4 linked regions of the Homo sapiens genome follow. The protein of the gene in region 2 purifies or fractionates together with the protein of the main gene of each other region. This does not show direct contact. Each region holds a gene or a part of one and is shown on either strand. Other genes may lie near its edges.

Evidence for each region. Proteins that work in one complex are often made in the same cells at the same time.
Region 1: the proteins of DENND4C (region 2) and NAV1 purify together in Homo sapiens (affinity purification with mass spectrometry, with the first as the bait; one large-scale study listed by BioGRID). This does not show direct contact.
Region 3: the proteins of DENND4C (region 2) and MAST3 purify together in Homo sapiens (affinity purification with mass spectrometry, with the first as the bait; one large-scale study listed by BioGRID). This does not show direct contact.
Region 4: the proteins of DENND4C (region 2) and MAPKAP1 purify together in Homo sapiens (affinity purification with mass spectrometry, with the first as the bait; one large-scale study listed by BioGRID). This does not show direct contact.

Annotation. Positions count from the first base shown.
Region 1 is NC_000001.11:201,807,564-201,812,798, forward strand, and holds part of NAV1 (neuron navigator 1), read left to right. Parts: intron 1-389; coding exon 390-586; intron 587-854; coding exon 855-1,047; exon of another isoform or gene 1,048-1,139; coding exon 1,140-1,308; intron 1,309-1,600; coding exon 1,601-1,698; intron 1,699-1,878; coding exon 1,879-1,974; intron 1,975-2,382; coding exon 2,383-2,542; intron 2,543-2,959; coding exon 2,960-3,195; intron 3,196-4,039; coding exon 4,040-4,194; intron 4,195-4,339; coding exon 4,340-4,411; intron 4,412-4,901; coding exon 4,902-5,098; intron 5,099-5,235. UniProt on the Homo sapiens protein: May be involved in neuronal migration.
Region 2 is NC_000009.12:19,330,659-19,335,893, forward strand, and holds part of DENND4C (DENN domain-containing protein 4C), read left to right. Parts: intron 1-1,319; coding exon 1,320-1,526; intron 1,527-3,892; exon of another isoform or gene 3,893-4,010; intron 4,011-4,318; coding exon 4,319-4,447; intron 4,448-5,235. UniProt on the Homo sapiens protein: Guanine nucleotide exchange factor (GEF) activating RAB10. Promotes the exchange of GDP to GTP, converting inactive GDP-bound RAB10 into its active GTP-bound form.
Region 3 is NC_000019.10:18,124,715-18,129,949, reverse strand, and holds part of MAST3 (microtubule-associated serine/threonine-protein kinase 3), read right to left. Parts: coding exon 5,176-5,235; intron 1,551-5,175; coding exon 1,492-1,550; intron 1,085-1,491; coding exon 999-1,084; intron 1-998.
Region 4 is NC_000009.12:125,437,037-125,442,271, forward strand, and holds the end of MAPKAP1 (target of rapamycin complex 2 subunit MAPKAP1), read right to left. Parts: intron 1,977-5,235; coding exon 1,851-1,976; 3' UTR 358-1,850; downstream 1-357. UniProt on the Homo sapiens protein: Component of the mechanistic target of rapamycin complex 2 (mTORC2), which transduces signals from growth factors to pathways involved in proliferation, cytoskeletal organization, lipogenesis and anabolic output.

The DNA.
Region 1 (5,235 bases), on a different chromosome or scaffold from region 2:
ATCAGGGGCACAATTCCCCCTATGAGCAAGAGAACACCCAGGAAGTTCCCATAGCCTACAACATCAGCAAGCTAGAAGATTCTGTTCTTTCTCTTGGTCCTAATTTCCTTTCTTTCTTTCTTTCTTTTGAGATGGAGTCTCACTCTGTTGCCAGGCTGGAGTGCAGTGGCTCGATCTCAGCTCACTGCAACCTCTGCCTCCACGGTCCTAATTTCTAGGCAACTCTTCTGTCCGTATTCTATGAATCAAGTGAAGTGTTATAGAGGGTGGCTTAATTAAAGTAAATCCCCCGCCTCCAGCTCTCTCTGTCTCAGAAGTCTCAATCCAGTCCTCCCCCATCCCAGTAGTGGAGTCCTAATGTCCCTCTACCTGGATCTGCTTTTTTCTAGCTTCGAAGTTCCTTCAACAAAGCGTTCAGTATAAAAAAGGGGCCCAAGTCAGCTTCCTCATACTCGGATATAGAGGAGATTGCTACACCCGACTCTTCAGCCCCCTCATCCCCCAAACTACAGCATGGTTCTACAGAGACTGCTTCACCCTCCATCAAGTCCTCCACCTCGTCCTCCGTGGGCACTGATGTCACCGAGTAAGTGCTCTTTGGCTCCCTGCCACCCAGCCTGTTACCAGTGTAAGCTGTGGGCTAGAGTTGACAGGAGGCCATTAGACCTTAGACAAGCAGTACTTATTACTGACCTCTCCCTGGGCATATGAGACCAACAGATGGACCTTTCTTCTCATGCTGATTGAATATCAATGGGCAGGAGAAGCCAAGACCACCAACCATGCCTCTCAATATTCTCTAGTAACTCTAGTGCTTCTTCATGTAGCCTGGCTTGACTCTTGCTATCTTACAGGGGCCCTGCTCACCCAGCCCCCCACACTAGGCTGTTCCATGCAAATGAGGAGGAGGAGCCAGAGAAGAAGGAGGTATCGGAGCTGCGCTCTGAGCTATGGGAGAAGGAAATGAAGCTTACAGACATCCGCTTGGAGGCCCTCAACTCTGCCCACCAACTGGATCAGCTTCGGGAGACCATGCACAACATGCAGGTCAGTGTCTGGGCGGACAGCTGCAGGAAAGGGAAGACCAAGGCTTGCTGTCTGTCCAGTCTGCCACCCTACCCTGTCTGTTCTTGCCACAGTTGGAGGTGGACCTGCTGAAAGCAGAGAATGACCGACTGAAGGTAGCCCCAGGCCCCTCATCAGGCTCCACTCCAGGGCAGGTCCCTGGATCATCTGCATTATCTTCCCCACGCCGCTCCCTAGGCCTGGCACTCACCCATTCCTTCGGCCCCAGTCTTGCAGACACAGGTACCTGTGTGGGAGAAGAATCTATAAGGGTGAAGGGAAGAAAAGGGCTTATTTCACTGTTACACCATTCCACTTGCTTTGGTCAGGGCGGTAACAATGCCGAAGCCAAGCAGATGCCAGTGTCCTAAGACACTGAGTTGTAATGGTCCTTCAACCTTAACTACTTTTGAGTTTGGGACCTCCATTCCTTCTCTGTGGCAAACAGAGTTATTTTGGAAAGGATAATGATGGGAAAGTTTAGGAAAGGCTGCGGGTACTCCTAAAACCAGTTGGTTCTTTTCAATCCCCACAGACCTGTCACCCATGGATGGCATCAGTACTTGTGGTCCAAAGGAGGAAGTGACCCTCCGGGTGGTGGTGAGGATGCCCCCGCAGCACATCATCAAAGGGGTAAGGAACTTCAGGGAGAGCCACAGTGGGAATGAACAAATACTGTTACATTTATCCAAGAAAATCTGGACCCTGGGTACCTCCAAAACCAAAGAACTCAACTCCTAAGGCCTTTAGGACCCCGGTTCATGGAGTCATCTGCAGTGAAGCTCAAGAGCTTTTCCTTCCTTGGCCTTACAGGACTTGAAGCAGCAGGAATTCTTCCTGGGCTGTAGCAAGGTCAGTGGAAAAGTTGACTGGAAGATGCTGGATGAAGCTGTTTTCCAAGTGTTCAAGGTAAAGGGATACCTGTACTCAAAAAGGTTGTTCATCCTCTCGTGGAATATATATACTTTTTTAGAGACAGGGTCTCACTCTTGCCACCCAGGCTGGAGGGCAGTGGCGTGATCACAGCTCACTGCAGCCTTGAACTCTTGGGCTTAAGTAATTCTCCTGTCGCAGCCTCCTGAGTAGCTGGGATTACAAGCATGTGCCACCATGCATGGCTTCTCACAGGATATTAAACCGTCCAGGCACTGGGATCCTGGGGACCTTTGAGGCTTTATGGAGAAATGCTACCTAGGAAAAGCATATGCTCTGCACTTTCTCCATCTATTTCTGTTTCCTCTGATAGACATTCTTTGTTGTGGCTTTTACACCTGTGTTTGTATATTTTCTTCTTCTTCTGCCTGTCTTTTCTGTCAGGACTATATTTCTAAAATGGACCCAGCCTCTACCCTGGGACTAAGCACTGAGTCCATCCATGGCTACAGCATCAGCCACGTGAAACGAGTGTTGGATGCAGAGCCCCCCGAGATGCCTCCTTGCCGTCGAGGTGTCAATAACATATCAGTCTCCCTCAAAGGTCAGTCTTTGTCTCTTGGGGTGAGGTGGTGTGGCATGAAGGCAGGGACAGGATCATCAAATAATCCATCATGCATTCATTCACCAAGAACTCACTGAGAAGGTATAATATGAAGATGCTTAAGTAATGTGAGATATAAAAAGATGAGTAAGACCCAGTCCTAACTTTGGCTCCCAGGGACACTTTTGCTAAGCCTTGGCTTCTTGCTTCACTCCTCACCCCCAGCTCACAGCATGTCCCTAAAAAGAAGATCTAAGTTTTCAAAACTAGGGGTTAAGGGACTCTTATGGAACCATGGGGCAAGTGGCTCTGAGTTTCTTCAGGGGGCTCCTAGATAAAGAAAGAAAAGCCCTTTAGGATCCCTTGCTATCCTCAAGACCCTGGTCAATACTCATGCTTTCTGGGGTGGGGGTTCAGGTCTGAAGGAGAAATGCGTCGACAGCCTGGTGTTCGAGACGCTGATCCCCAAGCCGATGATGCAGCACTACATAAGCCTCCTGCTGAAGCACCGGCGCCTCGTCCTCTCGGGCCCCAGCGGCACGGGCAAGACCTACCTGACCAATCGCTTGGCCGAGTACCTGGTGGAGCGCTCTGGCCGTGAGGTCACAGAGGGCATCGTCAGCACCTTCAACATGCACCAGCAGTCTTGCAAGGTGGCTGCCCCCCGACACCCCTGCCAGCCTTTGTTCATGCCTCAGCCTTCCCTAAGACCCTTCCTCGGCCCCTTCCTGCCTCATTGTTCCCTTTTCCTCACCTCTGCCTTCATCTTTCTTCTCTTCTGTGTTCATTTCCTTCCCTCTCTATCTATCCCCTTTTCCAGTCTTCTCCTTTCCCTCCCCACGATTTCTTTCCAGCCTCTTGCCTTTAACTTGTTTCTCCACACTTTCCCTTGCCTTTATGGAGAAAGGCTTTCCTCTCCACACTTTTCCTTGCTTTGTGCACCTTCCTCCTCAGTTGGTCATTGATGAAACTGCATTCTCCTCATTTCTACCCCACTGTCTGCCAACCCTGTCAATCCCATCCCTTCTCTTTTGTTCTCTTCCTTCTACTTTTCTTTTCAGTATTACTCTCTGACCTTGGGCTATCTGGGAAGAAGCACTCAGAATTAAATGGTACATATTACACCCTCCCCTGCCAAAACCTGATGATGTCTCTTGAGTACCCTAATACAATGGAGTTGGTTCAGATCTTTGCTCTTCCCAGCTCGGGGAGGCATGCCCATTAGTAGTAGTCCATGGTACCAGTGAAAATCCATCTAGGAAATAGCATATGTTCCCCAACTTTGGGGAATTTAGGGGCTGCTGCTTAAGAGGGTTGCTTTAGAGCCTTTGCAACCACTGCTTATCACTCTGTGGTAATCTGCTGTAATCAAATTTGCAAGGAACTAAAGGCCCCAGGGGAATCTAGATCTAGTAAGACTTCTTCAAAATCCTGATTTCCAAGGCCGATCCAGCTGCTTATTCCCAAGTGCTGACCCACAGCCTTCTTTTATTCCAGGATCTGCAACTGTATCTTTCCAACCTAGCCAACCAGATAGACCGGGAAACAGGAATTGGGGATGTGCCCCTGGTGATTCTATTGGATGACCTGAGTGAAGCAGGCTCCATCAGTGAGTTGGTCAATGGGGCCCTCACCTGCAAGTATCATAAATGGTAAGTAAGCTGGGATCAAGACAAAATTCATCGAAGTGGGAGGAGGGAGAACCCAGTCCAGGACAACCTATGAGTTGTGTGCATGTGGCAGAAAGCAAGTGTGAAGGCAAGTCTAAGTGAATCTTTTTCCCCTTTCTCCCTACAGTCCCTATATTATAGGTACCACCAATCAGCCTGTAAAAATGACACCCAACCATGGCTTGCACTTGAGCTTCAGGTAAGACCTCTAGCTCTGGATGAACCTTCTGACCCTACCCAAGAGTCTTCAATCCTGGACTCTGGCCAGGAGGCAGTAGATAGGAGAAGGAAAGAGAAGTATCCAGAGCTTTTTGGGCTGGAAATAGAAAGTAGATGTATTTGTCATGTCAGTTACAAGGTGGAGGAGGACACTTGAGGAGAGAAAAGGCCTGCTAAGCTAAGAGAGAGCCAGGTAGGTTGCTCTAAGCAGAATTAGGATTCTCTGCCCGCACACGCTGATCTGGGTCAGTGATGTCAGAAGGTTATCCGAAGAGGGCTACCAATTTGAGAATCAGCTCTACCACCCCAGGGCTGCTGCTCTGAGTTCCGATGTCCCCACTATTACTTGAAAAGAAACCAAGTAGGCATTAGTGAGAAGCAGGCAGAAGGAGGGACAGACTGGCAGGGGCTGAACCCTGACAATGTCCCCATTGCCACTCTGACCCCACTTTCCCCATCCTTGGTGGCAGGATGTTGACCTTCTCCAACAACGTGGAGCCAGCCAATGGCTTCCTGGTTCGTTACCTGAGGAGGAAGCTGGTAGAGTCAGACAGCGACATCAATGCCAACAAGGAAGAGCTGCTTCGGGTGCTCGACTGGGTACCCAAGCTGTGGTATCATCTCCACACCTTCCTTGAGAAGCACAGCACCTCAGACTTCCTCATCGGTACTGGGGTCCAGCTTCCCCCGGGGGTCAGGAGGTGGCTTCCCTTTTCCACTGTACCACCTGGAGGGATGCTCCCTTCTCTTCCTGGAGTCTTCGGCATGTAAAGGAGCTGCAAGCCTTGTGGCTTCAGACTTAGA
Region 2 (5,235 bases):
CATAGACTAGCAAGGAATCTTCAGTGCAGAGCATAAAATGGCATTCTGATATATGTGATAGGTTCTGTAGTTTCTGGGAATATATATAGTTTGGTAAAGCTCAGCAGATGGCTGGGCACGGCAGCTCACGTCTATAATCCCAGCACTTTGGGAGGCTGAGGTGGGCAGATCACCTGAGGTCAGGAGTTCTAGACCAGTCTGGCCAACATGGTGAAACTCTGTCTCTACTAAAAATCTGCACAAAAAAATTAGCTGGGCATGGTGGTGGGTGCCTGTAATCCCAGCTACTCAGGAGGCTGAGGCAGGAGAATCACTTGAACCCGGGAGGCAGTGGTTGCGGTGAGCTGAGATCACGCCATTGCACTCCAGCCTTGGCGACAAAAGCAAGACTCTGTCTTAAAAAAAAATAACAAAGAAAACACCAAAACTCACCAGATGATTTTGATACCTAATTTTCTCTTCTACCTAAATCTGAATGAAAACCAGAACTAGAAAACATGACTATCAAACTATTAGGAAAGTTTATGTTGACTGCAAAGGAATAGGTCCTTTTTTTTTTTTTTGAGATGGAGTATCGCTCTGTCGCCAGGCTGGAGTGCAGTGGCACAATCTCAGCTCACTGCAACTTCCCACTCCCTGGTTCAAGCAATTCTCCTGCCTCAAACTCCCGAGTAGCTGGGACCACAGGCACATGCCACCATGCGCGGCTAATTTTTGTATTTTTAGTAGAGACTGGGTTTCACCATGTTGGCCAGGCTGGTCTTGATCTCCTGACCTCGTGATCCATCTGCCTTGGCCTCCCAAAGTGCTAGGATTACAGGCATAAGCCACTGCACCTGGCCAGAAACAGGTCTTTTTTAAGGAGTCTGTCAGTGAGGGAGTTAACATAGACTGTAGCTTGGGAAGACAGAGTGGAAATCTTGGCAGGAGATAGCCTAGAGCATCTTAAACTTTAGTGAAGAGAAGAGTGAGAGGAATATCACTTTTTCACCCATCAAAAATGAGTTCCTTCTTTGTAAAAGACATGAGCCATTCTATTACAAAAAGATGAATGATCTTTGCTCTTAATTTCTACTCTGTTAAGAGACACATGCTTGCTAACAAATAGATTTGGTATAGTATGAAGTATTACTGTAAATGAATGTTCAGGGGAACCATTAACACTGATAAGCAGGAAGCCACTCACAAAAGTCAACTTTGAAGTGCTTGATTTTAGGGGGTCAAGTTTTACTTAAATTCTCCTCTCCCTTTTCCTTCTCACTTCTCCCCTCACCCTAATGAATTTTAGTAAATATCATAATATTTTATTCTCTTTCTAGGAAATAAAAACAGCTCATAAATTGGCGAAGAGATGTTATACAAATCCACCACAGTGGGCCAAGTGTCTGTTTAGTCATTGTTACAGTTTATGGTTTATTTGTCTTCCGGCCTATGTTAGAGTTTCTCATCCTAAAGTCAGAGCACTTCAGCAGGCATATGATGTACTTATTAAGATGAGGAAAACAGATGTGGATCCCTTAGATGAGGCAAGTATAACAAATTGACATTGTTTCTAAGGTAAATTTTATTTTTGTACTTCTAATAAAATTTGGGTGTAAGTTGCTTTAAAGTGTGCTCAAGCATTTTCATTAAGCAGGAAAGGTAAAACTATTACTGTTTCATGGAGCTGGTGCATATTACTTGTTTATTTTTTATTTTAATTATTGATTTGTTTTTGTGACAGAGTCTCACTCTGTCACCCAGGCTGGAGTTCAGCAGTGCGTCCTTGGCTCCCTGCAACCTCTGCCTCCCGGGTTCAGACAGTTCTTGTGCCTCCCGAGTAGCTGGAATTACAGGCACATGTTACCATACCTGGCTAATTTTTTTTTTTTTTTTTTTGTATTTTTAATAGAGATGGGGTCTCACCGTGTTGGCCAGGCTGGTCTCAAACTCCTGGCCTCAAGTGATCTGCCTGCCTCAGCTTTCAGTGCTGGGATTACAGGCATGAGCCATCACATCCGGCCATGTTTGTTTATTTTTAAAGAGATGGAGTCTCACTCCTCTCTCGCCCAGGCTGGAGTGCGGTTGTGTGATCATGGCACCTGGCATATGGTTTTTCTGTTTTTGATTTTTTTTTTTTTTTTTTTTAAGGGATGGAGTCTCACTTTGTTTCCCAGGCTGGTCTTGAACTCCTGGCTCTTGAACCCCCACCTTGGCCTCCCAAAGTGCAGGGATTACAGGCATGAGCCACTGTGGCTGGCTTCATTTTATTCTTAATATAACTTTATTGGGGAGCAGATAGGGAATAGGCTTTTAGTAAGTGGCTCTCCACTTAGGACCTGTGTCCTAAGGTGAGTTATATAATCTATTTAAAAATATATTTTTTATTTATATTTAAATATATATATATACTCGTGCCCAAGCTGGAGTGCAGTGGCACTGTCACAGCTCACTGTAGCCTAGAACTTAAGGGCTCAAGTGATTTTCCTGCCTCAGCCTCCTGAGTAGCTGGGACTACAGGTGCACACCACCACGTCTAATTTTTTTAGTTTTATTTTTTGTAGAGATGGGGTCTCGATATGTTACCTGGGCTGGTCTCAAACTCATGGTGTCAAGCCATCCTTCTACTTGGCCTCCCAAAGTGCCAAGATTATAAATATGAGCCACTGCACCTGGCCTATGGAACCTATTTGTGTTTTGGATTATCTATTAGAAAATGTAGCTTTGAACTTCTCAACTTTGGCACTATTGATATTTTGGCCCACACAATTGTTTATTTTAGGGGCCTGTCTTGTACATTGTGTAGGATGTTTAGTAGCATCCCTGGCCTCTACCAACTGTATGCCTCTCTTTCCCTGCACAGATCATGACAATCAAAAATGTTCCCGGAGAGCGAAATTGCTCCTGGAGAACCACTGAGGTAGATAATAATAGTTAGCACCTTCATCATAAGGTTAGTTTGAAGGTTAGTTAAATCAGTTAATATACTTAAAGTGCCTAGTTCATAGTAAGCACTCAGTGAATGATATACTAGACATTTTCATGCATTTTCTCTCTCAAGCCTTAGAAACCATCCTAAGAAGTAGATACTGATATTATCCAGCTAATGGCTGAGGAAACTGAGGCACTTATTTAGCTTTTTCCAATGCTGTTTTTCCCTTTAAAAATTATTTTTGGTGTTAAGATAACTATAAATGATGTTTTGAACTAGATTAGAATTAAAAATGAAAAGTCTTTGCTAATAATGTTACAGTATATTTAACTGTCTTCTCATTCTTTTAAAGACAAATCCTATTTGTTCTGTAGGCATTTTGGAGATACTGTCTTTAATTCCTTTGGCATTGAATGGAAAGCATAGTGATTGGGGAGAGAGAGACTTCAATTATACTTGATTTTATTTATATTTATTTATTTATTTTTTATTTAGAGACAGTTTTACTCTTTTCCTCCAGGCTAGCATGCAGTGGCGCAGTCTTGGCTCACTACAATCTCCGACTCCCGGGTTCCAGCAATTCTACTGCCTCACTCTCCCAAAGTAGCTGGGACTACAAGTGCGTGCCACCACGCCTGGCTAATTTTTGTATATATTTTTTTGTAGAGATGGAGTTTCACTGTGTTGGCCAGGCTGATCTCGAACTCCTGACCTCAGGTGATCTGCCTGCCTGGGCCTCCCAAAATTCTGGGATTACAGGCATGAGCTACTGCTCCCGGCCTCTATCCTTGATTTTAGAAATGAATTACCTCTCAAATTATGAGGAGTAATAGTCTTTCTCTTTGTATAGATTTAGTTACTCAAACAAATGGAACATGGACACATATGTCTTATATGAAATGGTTAATAATGATGATACTTGCATTAATGAATAGGTTTGTTTTTGGGTTTTTTTTTTTTTTTCTTTTTTTTTTGAGACAGAGTCTCACTCTGTTGCCCAGGCTGGAGTGCAGTGGCGTGATCTGGGCTCATTACAACCTCTACCTCCTGGCTTCAAGCGATTCTCGTGCCTCAGCTTCCCAAGTAGCTGGGATTACAGGTATGCACCACCATGCCCATCTAATTTTTGTACTGTTAGTAGAGATGGGGTTTCACCATGTTGGCCAGGTTGGTCTCGAACTCCTGACCTCAGGTGATCCACCCGTCTCAGCCTCCCTAAGTGCTGTGAGGCGTGAGCCACTGTGCCCAGCCTGAATAGGTCTTAAAAATAATTTGCTAAGATGCTCAAAGCAGAACAAAGGAGAAAATACTGCTTAATAACTTCATGGAAAGAATTCAGTAAAATCTCTACAATTCACAGATAGATTAGTATACTAATTACTGACACTGATTTTTTTTTTTTGTTAGGTGTGCTATCGAGTAGTGATGCAGCTTTGTGGACTTTGGGGTCATCCTGTTTTAGCAGTGAGAGTCTTATTTGAAATGAAAACTGCTAGGATAAAGCCTAATGCTATTACTTATGGTTATTATAATAAGGTAAGTAGGATCGACATTAGGCAAGATGTGGTGTTTATTAAGAATGATTATTTTGTATACCTTTAGTTATTCATGAAACTCCTATTAAAGGAAGTTTTGGGATATAATTTTTTAATAATTTTTATAATTATTAAAAATTGACAAAAAGTATATATATTTATCATGTACAATATGATGTTTTGAGATATGTATATTGTGGAATGGCTCAATCGAGCTATTAAATAATTAACATATGCCTTCATTGTTTTGTGGTGAGAACACTTCTAATCTCTTAGAAATTTTCAAAATACAATACATTGTTATTAACTGTAGTCCCCATGTTGTTCAATAGATTTCTTGAATTTATTTCTCCTACTGAACTGAAGTTTTGTATCCTTTGACCAACATCTTCCAGTGTCCCCTTTCCCCTTACCTCCCAAAGCCCCTGGTAACCATACTTCTAGTCTCTGCTTTTATGGGTTTCACTTTCCTGGATCTCATATATATGTGAGATCTTGCGGTATTTGTCTTTCTGTGCCTGGCTTATTTCACTTACCATAATGTCCTCTGGGTTCATTCATATTGTCACAAATTACTGGGTTTCCTTTTTTATTTCAGGCTGAATAGTATCTCGTTGTGTATATATACCACATTTTCTTCATCCATTCATACATTGATAAACACTTAGGTTGATTTCATATGTTGGTTATTGTGAATAATGCTGCAATAAACATGGGAGTACAGATCTCTCTTCAATATACTGATTTCATTTCTTTTGCATATCTATACCCAGTAATAGGATTGCTGGA
Region 3 (5,235 bases), on a different chromosome or scaffold from region 2:
TTCTTTCTTTCCTTTTTTTTTTTTTTTGAGATGGTCTCACTGTGTCACCCAGGCTGGAGTGCAGTGGGGTGATCTCGGCTCACTGCAACCTCTGCCTCCTGGGTTCAGGTGATCCTCCAACTTCAGCCTCCCAAGTAGCTGGAATTACAGGCATGTGCCATTACGCCCAGTTAATTATTCTATTTTTAGTATTGATGGAGTTTTGCCATGTTGCCCAGGCTGGTCTCGAACTCCTGGCCTCAAGCGATCCTCCTACCTTGGCCTCCCAAAGTGCCTCCGCACCTGGTCTAGCTCTTTTAAAAGACCGCTAGCACCAAACTCAAAGTTTTACACATCCGTTTGTTTTACACACAGACCAAGTAAGCAAAATTTTAGCCACTGAGAGCCTGTCTGCTTTGCAGACTCGTGAAACTGCACCATCTCTGAGCCATGGATAAGATGAACTTTGTGGATTTCAAGACCCTAAGCTGCTACCACCCTGCAGGGAGTCTCTGACCCAGAGATTGAGTGCCCATGCTGTTGAACAACATCACCTAGACATGTAAGCCCCCTCTCTGATCCCCCTCTGCCCGGGGAGTTCCCTTGCCGGCCTCTCCCTCTTGATGGTGACTCCTGGAACCTCAGCCTCCAAAAGGCTTATGCTATGAGGGACTTCCCTTGTATGCAAGCCTGCCATTCAAAGCAGCACCTAAATAAAGCTCACTGCGTGCTACTCCCACTGGGTGGGCATCTATTTCCTTGATCAGCCCCCAAGCCCCTAGAACGCCCTACACCTGGGGCAGGTAAAGGCCTGGCTCGTGGACAGAGCACACATGAGGCTGTAACCTCGCTATGGCGTGTCTCCACTTCCCCCTCCAGTCCTCAGGTGCCTTCTCTGCCCATTCAAGGATGAATGTGTGAGCCCTGCTGGGGTAGGAGGGGGATGCAGGAGCTGCCTGGGCCTCAACCATCCCCTCAGGCATCTGTGAAATGGGTCTATGCAGGACTCAGGGACTCACCCATAGGCTCCGTTGCTAATGAGTTTGATGGTCTCAAAGTCGCTTTCGCATGGCTTCCTCCGTGACTGGCCGACCAGGGCGCGGCTCTAGGGGATGGGAAGGGCTTAGGGTCCTGCCCCGCTGCAGAGCTGGGAAGGCTTCTCCTGCCCCCAAGCCCAAACCACTGGTCCTGGTGCCCGATGCTACCTCCTCCCCTGTCCAAACTTCTCCAACTCAGCTTCTGACTTTCTGTACTTTTTTGCTCACAGCTGTGCCCTCCTCCTGGGAAATTCTTACACGTCCTGCAAAACTCACCTGTCCAGTGCCCCTCCAGCACTGCCCCCACCCGACTTCCAAGGCAGGGCAGTCCCACGTGCCGTCACCTTGCCTCCAAAGTCACCGATGCTAATTAAGCTACATGCAAGACCTCGGCAAACCCAGCCCTTTCTGCGGGTGCCTGGTCCACTCTGGAAAGAACAAGATGAGCGGGGGTCCCCCAGCCTCTGCTACTCACCTCTGGGGACTCAGGTGCTGGGGGCTGTTCTTCTTCGAGGTGACTCAGTGGCACCATCTCTGCAAGATGAGGGAGGAGGCTCAGCTGGAGCCTCCCTGCCTCACCCTGCATCACCCAGCAATTTCCTGAGGCCTCTAGAGTTCTCACCCCAGGCTGGGGATGCAGTGCCTCCCCTGACCAGCTCTCATGACACTGTCATGAAGCCACATCCGGGAGGCTGGATGAAGCAATGACTTAGGAACCTTCTAGAAGGGCCAGTGGGCTGCCCTGGCTCTGAAGTGCTCAGTCATGATCAAACTTAGGCTCTGAGCCTTGAGCCTGTGAAGACGGGATGAGACACAGGCCCCCTGGGTGTCAGCTCCTAACATCTTCCTCAGCTCAGGGTGCAGCCCAGGTGGAGGGTCCAATATGTTCTTGCCCCAGGCCTTGGCAGAGGGGCAGCCCCTAGCGAATGCCTGGCAAACATGGTCCAGCCACAGACCACATGTGATCTGGCCTTAGGTACACCTGGGTTTGATTCCCTGCTCAGCCTTATCTGCCTGGAGCCTCAGTTTCCTCAGCTTTATTTTTTATTAGTATGATTATTTAATTTATTTATTTGACATGGAGTCTCGCTCTGTCACCCAGGCTGGAGTGCAGTGGTGTGATCTCAGCTCACTGCAACCTCCACCTCTTGGGTTCAAGTGCTTCTCCTGTCTCAGCCTCCCAAGTAGACGGGATTACAGGCGTGTGCCACCATGCCCAGCTAATTTTTGTATTTGTATTTTTATTTTTTGAGACGCAGTCTCACTCTGTCGCCCAGGCTGGAGTGCAGTGGCGAGATCTTGGCTCACTGCAACCTCCACCACCTGAGTTGAAGAGATTCTCCTGCCTCAGCCTCCCGAGTGGCTGGGATTACAGGCGCCTGCCACCACACCTGGCTAACTTTTGTATTTTTAGTAGAGATGGGGTTTCACCACATTGGCCAGGCTGGTCTTGAACTCCTGACCTCAGGTAATCCGCCTGCCTCGGCCTCCCAAAGTGCTGGGATTACAGGTATAAGCCACTACGCCCAGCCTAATTTTTGTATTTTTAGTAGAGACAGGGTTTCACCATGTTGGCCAGGCTCGTCTCAAACTCCTGACCTCAGGTGATCTGCCCGCCTTGGCCTCCCAAAGTGCTGGGATTACAGGCGTGAGCCACCGCACCCGGCCAAGTATGATTATTTCAGAGACAGGCTCTTGCTCTGTCACCCAGGCTGGAGTGCAGTGGTGCCATCATGGCTCACTGCAGCTTCAGTCTCCTAAACTCAAGCAATCCTCCCACCTCAGCCTCTCAAGTAGGTGGGACTACAGGCATTCACCGCCACGCCTGGCTAATTTTTAAAAATACTTTTTGTAGGCCAGGCGCGGTGGCTCACGCCTGTAATCCCAGCACTTTGGGAGGCAGAGGCGGGCGGATCATGAGGTCAGGAGATCGAGACCATCCTGGCTAACACAGTGAAACCCCGCCTCTACTAAAAATACAAAAAATTAGCCGGGCGTGGTGGCGGGCGCCTGTAGTCCCAGCTACTCGGGAGGCTGAGGCAGGAGAATGGCGTGAACCCAGGAGGCGGAGCTTGCAGTGAGCCAAGATCGTGCCACTGCACTCCAGCCTGGGCGAGAGAGCGAGACTCTGTCTCAAAAAAGAAAAAAAAAAATTACTTTTTGTAGAGATGGGGTCTTGCTATGTCACCCAGGCTGGAGTGCAGTTGTGCGACCATAGCTCACTGCAGCCTCAAACCCCTGGGCTCAAGCAGTCTTCCCACTTCAGCCCCGCAAGTAGCTAGGACTATAGGCATGTGCGATCATGCCTGGCTAATTGTTTTTTTAATAGAGACGAGATCTCAGTATGTTGCCCAAGCTGGTCTCAAACTCCTGGCTTCAAGTGATCCTCCTGCCTTGGCCTCCCACAGTGCTGGGATTACAAGTGTGAGCTACCATGCCGGGCCTCCCCAGCTTTCAATGGGGACAGTGGCAGGTCAGTCCCACTCCAGGTATGGTCCAACCTTAGGGTCTATGCCTATGCTGCCTGTTTCACTCTTTCCTTTGGATCTGCAACCTGGTCACCTCCTGCCCTCCAGGCCTCAGTTTGAACACTGCCTCCTCCCAGAGCCTCCCCCTGGCTACTGCTGGACCAGGCTAGGTCCAAGTTCAATGCTCCAGCTTTCAGTTCCTCTTATCCTGGCTATTTGTGGAAATTTTTTTTTTTCTCTTTTTGAGACAGGGTCTGGCTTTGTCACCCAGGCTGGAGGACAGTGGTGTGATCATAGCTCACTGCAGTCTCAACCTGCCAAGCTCAAGCGATCTTCCCACCTTAGCCTCCTGAGTAGCTGGGACTACAGGCGCGCACTACTACACCCAGCTACATCTTTTTTTTTTTGAAATGTAGGCTCACTCTTTCACCCAGGCTAGAGCACAGTGGCGTGATCTCGGCTCACTGCAACCTCTGCCTCCTGAGTTCAAGCGATTCTCCTGCCTCAGCCTCCCAAGTAGCTGGGATCTACAGGCACATGCCACCACACCCGGCTAATATTTGTTTTTAGTAGAGATGGAGTTTCTGCATATTGGCCAGGCTAGTCTTGAATTCCTGACCTCAAGTGATCCACCCGCCTCAGTCTCACAAAGTGCTGGGATTATGGGATTACAGGCGTGAGCCACTGCACCTGGCTGGCTGTGGGAGTTGTTTGTTTTTTTTTTTGAGACAGAGTCTTGCCCTGTTGCCCAGGCTGGAATGAAGTGGTGTGATCTCGGCTCACTGCAACCTCCGCCTCCAGGGTTCAAATGATTCTCCTGCCTCAGCCTCCCGAGTAGCTGGGATTACAGGCACACGCCACCACACCCGGCTAATTTTTGTATCTTTAGTAGAGATGGGGTTTCACCATGTTGTCCTGGCTGGTCTTGAACTCCTGACCTTGTGATCCACCCACCTCGGCCTCCCAAAAGTGCTGGGATTACAGGCGTGAGCCACCGCACCCGGCCGGCTGTGGGAGTTTTTGACCGTCTTCTTACCTACGGGTTGTCCTGTTTGACTCCAAGTTCACTTTCTGGGCCACAGTAAAGGCCACAGAAATTGGTAAAGTCATTTGTGAATTTGCAGGACAAAGGGAAGGCCACTGCTAACACTGGTCCCCAGGCTTCCTGACCATCTTAACGTGGCATTTGAGGACACTGAGGCCCCTGGGCCCCAAAAGATCAGAGGGTCTCAGCATAATTCCCACAGGTGACCTAAGAGCAAGGCCACAGAGAGACAAAGAACAGTGCGGTGGTTCTGGAATCGGATGGGCCTGGGTTTGAATCCTGGCTTCATCTGCCCTTTCTTTTTTTGTTTTTTTGAGACAGGGTCTCGCTCTGTCGCCCAGGTTGGAGTGCAGTGGCGCGATCTCAGCTCACTGCAACCTCCATCTCCTGAGTTCAAGCAATTCTTGTGCCTCAGCCTCCTGAGTAGCTGGGATTACAGGCATGCGCCACCACACTTAGCTAATTTTTGTATTTTTAGTAGGGGGGGGGTTTCCACCATGTTGGCCAGGCTGGTCTCGAACTCCTGGCCTCAAGTGATCTGCCCGCCTTAGCTTCCCAAAGTGCTGGTATTAAAGGTGTGAGCCACCGTGCCTGGCCTCCATCCGGCCTTTCCCAGCCTTGGTTTCCTCTTCCCATCCCGGCTTACCCTCCAGGGGGTCCTTGGCCAGGCCCAGCTGCCCAATGATGTACTGTGGAAGGTCAGTCT
Region 4 (5,235 bases), about 110 Mb from region 2:
AGGGAAAGCTGAATGCAGAGTCTTGATCCGTGCTGGGCCTGGGCGGTGGCTGCTGTGTTCCCTTTCCACTGTTCCTTCACCTGGACACATGTGTTTATGTAAACTGAGAGTGTTGCATTTCACAGTAAGAGAAGGGTGTTGATTTTGTGGCTGAAGGAGGTGATGACTTTGGTGTCACCCCTGAGTGAAGAGGGCCAGCCTGTCGTGCTTAGCACCAAAGAGGCCCCGGTGCATTTCAGAGATGTTGCTTCCTCGTCAACTGCTGGCAAATGCCACCACCCAGGAGGCTCATGGCAGAGTCATGGTTTTCGGCATCACATACTCCAGACTTCAGAAACTCAACACAATATGCAAAAGTGTGTATTTATATGACTTTTATTTTAATATCATTTTAATATCGAATATGTCACAAGATTTAATGACCAAATTAGTCATTTACATTTTTCAAAGTATCTAAATATAAAATTGCTAAAAATTCAAATACAGATAGCAAGCTACAAATATTTCTTTTGTTTTTGGGTGGGGGGTAGGAATGGAAGACATTAGAAAAGGACGCTCCTGTTGGCTGAACAAAGATCAGAATGAAAGAAGAATTCATCAGCATGACCCCTTGTGCAAAGAAATACACTCAGCTTTAAGATGCTGTTTTAGACACATCTCTTCCTGTACAACAATTTAAAAAATGTTTCTAATGCAGGTCCTCAGTGAAACACCGGTCCCCGGCCCTGGCTGGGGACAGTAAGGACATCACCGCAGGAGGGACACTGAAGAGGCTGTCGAGGACTGCAGAGGCATCTGGTGTGGCCAGAGGCGTGGTGTCAGGGGCATCTGATCCCTTGCCTGTTCCCACCCAGGGAGCCGGACGGCACGGACACAGGTCTCCCTCCGCTCACCCCTCTCCCTGAAACGTGAGAAACAGCAGCTTTCCGCCTGCTTGAAAAAGGAGGCAGGCGCTGTAAGGAGAAGAGGAATGGGGAATGTGGCCCCTTCCAAGGCAGCGAAGCAGAGAACATGCAGGTGGAACTGCCAGCTGAAACCTACACTTGCTACTTAAGAAACGGAAAGACCATGTCTGGCTGGGAGTGCAGCGTGCCTGAGGACCAGCCACCGCCCCTCCTCCTGGCACCCCACACTGTCCACGCAGCTCCTGGGCTCTGAGGTCAGAAGCTGGGGTGTGCTGAAGGGGAAAGTGACACGGCCTTGGACACACCACTAGGTCTCTGTTCCTAACTTTTAGTAAGACACTACCCTCGAAGCAAATGCACTCATTTAAACAAATGGCATAGTTAAAACTATTGACTAAGACCTAAACATTTCTTCTGAGAAATCGAACCATAGCTTTTCCAATCTGCCTGTTCAATATGGGAACAGATTTTAAAGAGAGTAACATAATCAATCCTCCGCCCCAAAGAATGGTCCATCATACCAACCATGATAAAGAGTACACCTGTTTATTAAAAGGAAAAACAGAAATGTACATTTTTGTTGTTTGCTTTAAGAAATTTGATCAAGTTGCAAGGAAATGTGTGGGCACGGCTCTGTACATCCTCGGGCAGGGTGGCAGGCATTGAAGGTGGCTGGGCGGCACGTGGCTCCTCTAGGGGGTGGTCTGACCCCCAAGCATCGCTTATCAAAGCCACTGCCAAGCAGACTTCCGTCCCATGGCAATGTCCCCAGCGCTCCCTCCTAGGGGGCCCCCGACACCTTCCCCGAGAGCCCACCTGCCCTGTGCCAGTGAGCCAGGGGCTGGCCTCCCCCCGAGGACTTCAGGACACCGGGTGGACTCTAGGGCACTTGGCCCTGGCAGGCAGGCTCTGAGCTACGGAACAGATTGAGGCTGGAGGCCAGTGTCACTGCTGCCCGGATTTCTTCTCCTTCTGGAAGCTGAAGCTCGTACGTCTGTTCAGTTTTCTTTGTTTTTGAGCAAAGTAGTCAGCCCGGGCAGTGCTAGCTCGCGATTCCAGGATGTAGTTAACCTAGAAACAAGAGCACACAGCCCGGTCACCTTGCCAGCCGCTCCCTACCCACCCAGGGCATCGGAGGGGGTGGCAGGGAAGGCCCTGACCTGGGCCGGGTGCCTCAGGGCCAGGTGCTGTCGTGTGGAAGGAGTCCAGTCATCACAGCAACCTGGCAGCGGCTGGGCCCAGAGCCGCTGCTCTACGATGGGAAAACAGAGGCTTGGAGAAGCCAAGTGGCCAGTCCAGGCTTCCCAGTCAGTGAGCGGCGAGCTCTTCAGGTTCCGGAGCCCATGCTCCCTCCTGGCGTGAGCCACTCCCGGAAGGCTGTGCCCTGGGCTGCCTGGCTATGCCTCCCACCTGCTGTGTGACCTGGACAAGCACATAACCTCTCTGAGCCTGCCTTTCCCTGTGTGAAGGCCGAGAACACAGGGATGAAAAGCAAACCAAGACAGGCTCTCCATCCAGCCTCCCACCAGCCAGGCGCAGAGCTTCCCACCACAGTGCTTCCTTCAGGGCTCATGAGTGCCCAGCCAGGCAGGGCTCACTTGACAAAAAGGAAAGAGGCTCAGAGAGGGAGGCCAAAGTGGCCTAGGCCACGTGGAAGTCAGGGTGAGAGCTGTGAGGGGGCTGAAAGAGCCCTGTGTGAAGGGCGGGGCTGCCTCCTGGGCTCCTCTCAGGCCTTCTGCACGCTGCTGCTTCCACGAAGCCCTGGGAGTCTGCCCGGAGTCGCATGTGCATCTTCCACTCTGTGTAGCAGCTGCACCGCCAGGCGCTTCCCCAGCGCTACAGCGCTGAGACTTGGTCCTGGCCCTGGGGAGCTTGCTGCCTGGTGAGTGGGTGTCCAGCAGCAGAACCAGCACTGCAGCAGGCAAAGAGGAGCATCAAGGAATGGGGCTGAGTATCAGGGAGGTGTGGAGGAGGGAAGGCTTCCAGAGGAAAAGAGTGAGCGGGCTTTTGAGGGATACACAGGAGTTTTTGAGTGCGCAACGGGGAGGAGAGACGCAGCATGCATCAAGGCACAGCAGGGGCACGCCACAAGGGAGTGTCCCTGGAACTGCGAGAGCTTGGCTGGCTTAGTGAAATGAGGTGGTGGGAGCCAGGGAGGGGTGCTACAGTGGGATGCACACGCCCCAGTGCTGAGGACAGCCTGTGCCTGGGCATGGGCGGCAGCAGCAGTGTGAAATCAGTGGTGGCAACTGGCACTGCTCGGAGTGCCTTTCAGCGCTCATGGAATCTTCACAATAATCTTGAGACAGATGCCACTGTCATCCCCATGCACAGGTGAGGAAGTCAAGGCCAATGACAATAATGTCATTTAGTCAAGGTCACAAAGCTAGAAGGTGTCAGGCGCTTGGCAAACACCCCTTCCTGCTCCGCAGCCTCTCACCTCCTCTGCTCCTCTGGCTGGGGCTTTTGGTGAACAGACGCTATTTCTCTTCACCTGCAAGTATCTAAAAGTTTTGACTAGAAGGCTGAATATTTCTGACAAGAGAGGCCAGCCACTGCCTCTGCTGATTCTACTCCGAGGGCCATGTGTCCTGTGCCAGAGGGAGAGGAGCTTCTGCTGACTCCGAGAAGGAACCAGAGGGCTCCCGGGGGAGGCAGCGCGAGATGGCAACGCCTCAGATGGCCGAGGCTTCAACACTGTCCCTCCCAACTTTCTGCTCTGCTGGTTGGAGCAGCAGGCGTTAAAGGCTGGTGCGTGAGTACAGAAGGCCTGACACGCTCTGCCCGCTGCCTCGCCAAGTTACCAGCTGAGAGCAATAAATCATGAGGACCGCAGGGCCAGGTTGATGATTTGGGACAATACAGTGTATGGAAATAAGAGGTTTTATCATTCTTAATACAAGAAATCTTTGGATTATATTGTTTGCACACTCAGCCAACCTAGTGTTTTCAGTGTATTTTTGGCACATATAACTTGACAAAAGCATTTTAAAATGATCCTTAACAAGCCAACTATTTCCCAAATTTATTATCTTCAGTGCTTTGTGATAATCACATAGATAATGTTAATGGAAGATTAATGTAATAATCAAAAGATAAAAACGCCCTTTGCTCTGCCATTAGCTGGTTAATATGCTGTGGCTTAAAACTGGCACAATTTTATGCACTATAGAGTGTTTCATTTTCAACGCATTTTACAGCTTAAGGCATAAAAATATAGGGAGTTTTCATGGTCAATAAAGCCACAGCCTCCATCACTCAATCACGAGAAGAACCTGATTTGAAGAGCCCGACAACTCCTCTGAGATTCATCTCAAAGCCTGTGGAATTAGGGACCACCCATGGCTTAGCTCAGTGACATCTTGATGGGAAGAGGGCGGCTCTGGAGCTTCTCGGGCCAGGTTCAAGTAGAGGCTCCACCCTTGTGTGCTCTGTGACCTTGGGCCTCCATCTCCTCTTCTATAAAATGGGGACAATGTCTACATTCTGGAGGGCGGTCAGGAAGATTAAACAAGATAATGGACATTAGATGTACTGCATGTAGCTGGTGTTCAATAAATGGGAGACGTTCCTATTTCTACAAGCGCAAAAAGCTCGATGGAGGCTTTGTTCATGATTGTTTATTTGACATCAGATTGTGGCTCTTATTTCCTCCCTTCAATTTCCATCTAAGCTCTCATTTTATGTAAAATTCCTGAATTCTAGAACAACAGCATGCATTACTAGAGTCTAAACTGACTCCTCAAGAGCTTCTGATGGCAACAACATTTCTCCCAAGCTCCCGGACACAGGGCTGGGCTTCCGTTGCTTGGTACTGGTGCAAAGCTCACAAAGACACACTCAGGACACTGCAGGAATGGTGGATAAAACTAAGTATTCCAATTGCTATAAAAATCAGAGATGGGGCCGGGCCTGGCGGCTCATGTCTTTAATCTCAGCACTTTGGGAGGCTGAGGTGGGCAGATCACTTGAGGCCAGGAGTTCGAGACCAGCCTGGCCAATGGTGAAACCCCGTTCTCTACTAAAAATAGAAAAAAATTAGCTGGGCTTGGTGGCGGGTGCCTGTAATCCCAGCTACTCGGGAAGCTGAGGCAGGAGAATCACTTGAACCCGGGAGGTGGAGGTTGCAGTGTGCAGAGATCACACGACTACACCCCAGCCTGTGCAACAGAGTGAGACTCTGTCTCAAAAAAAAAAAAAAAAAAAAAAAAAAATCAGAGGTGGGAGAAGTACTATCTCATCTTCCATCAGGCTCATGATCATTAGCTCTAAGTAAATCAGGCCTAGGGTATGCTACAACTCTTCTGGAGTCTTGTGCATGACACAATAT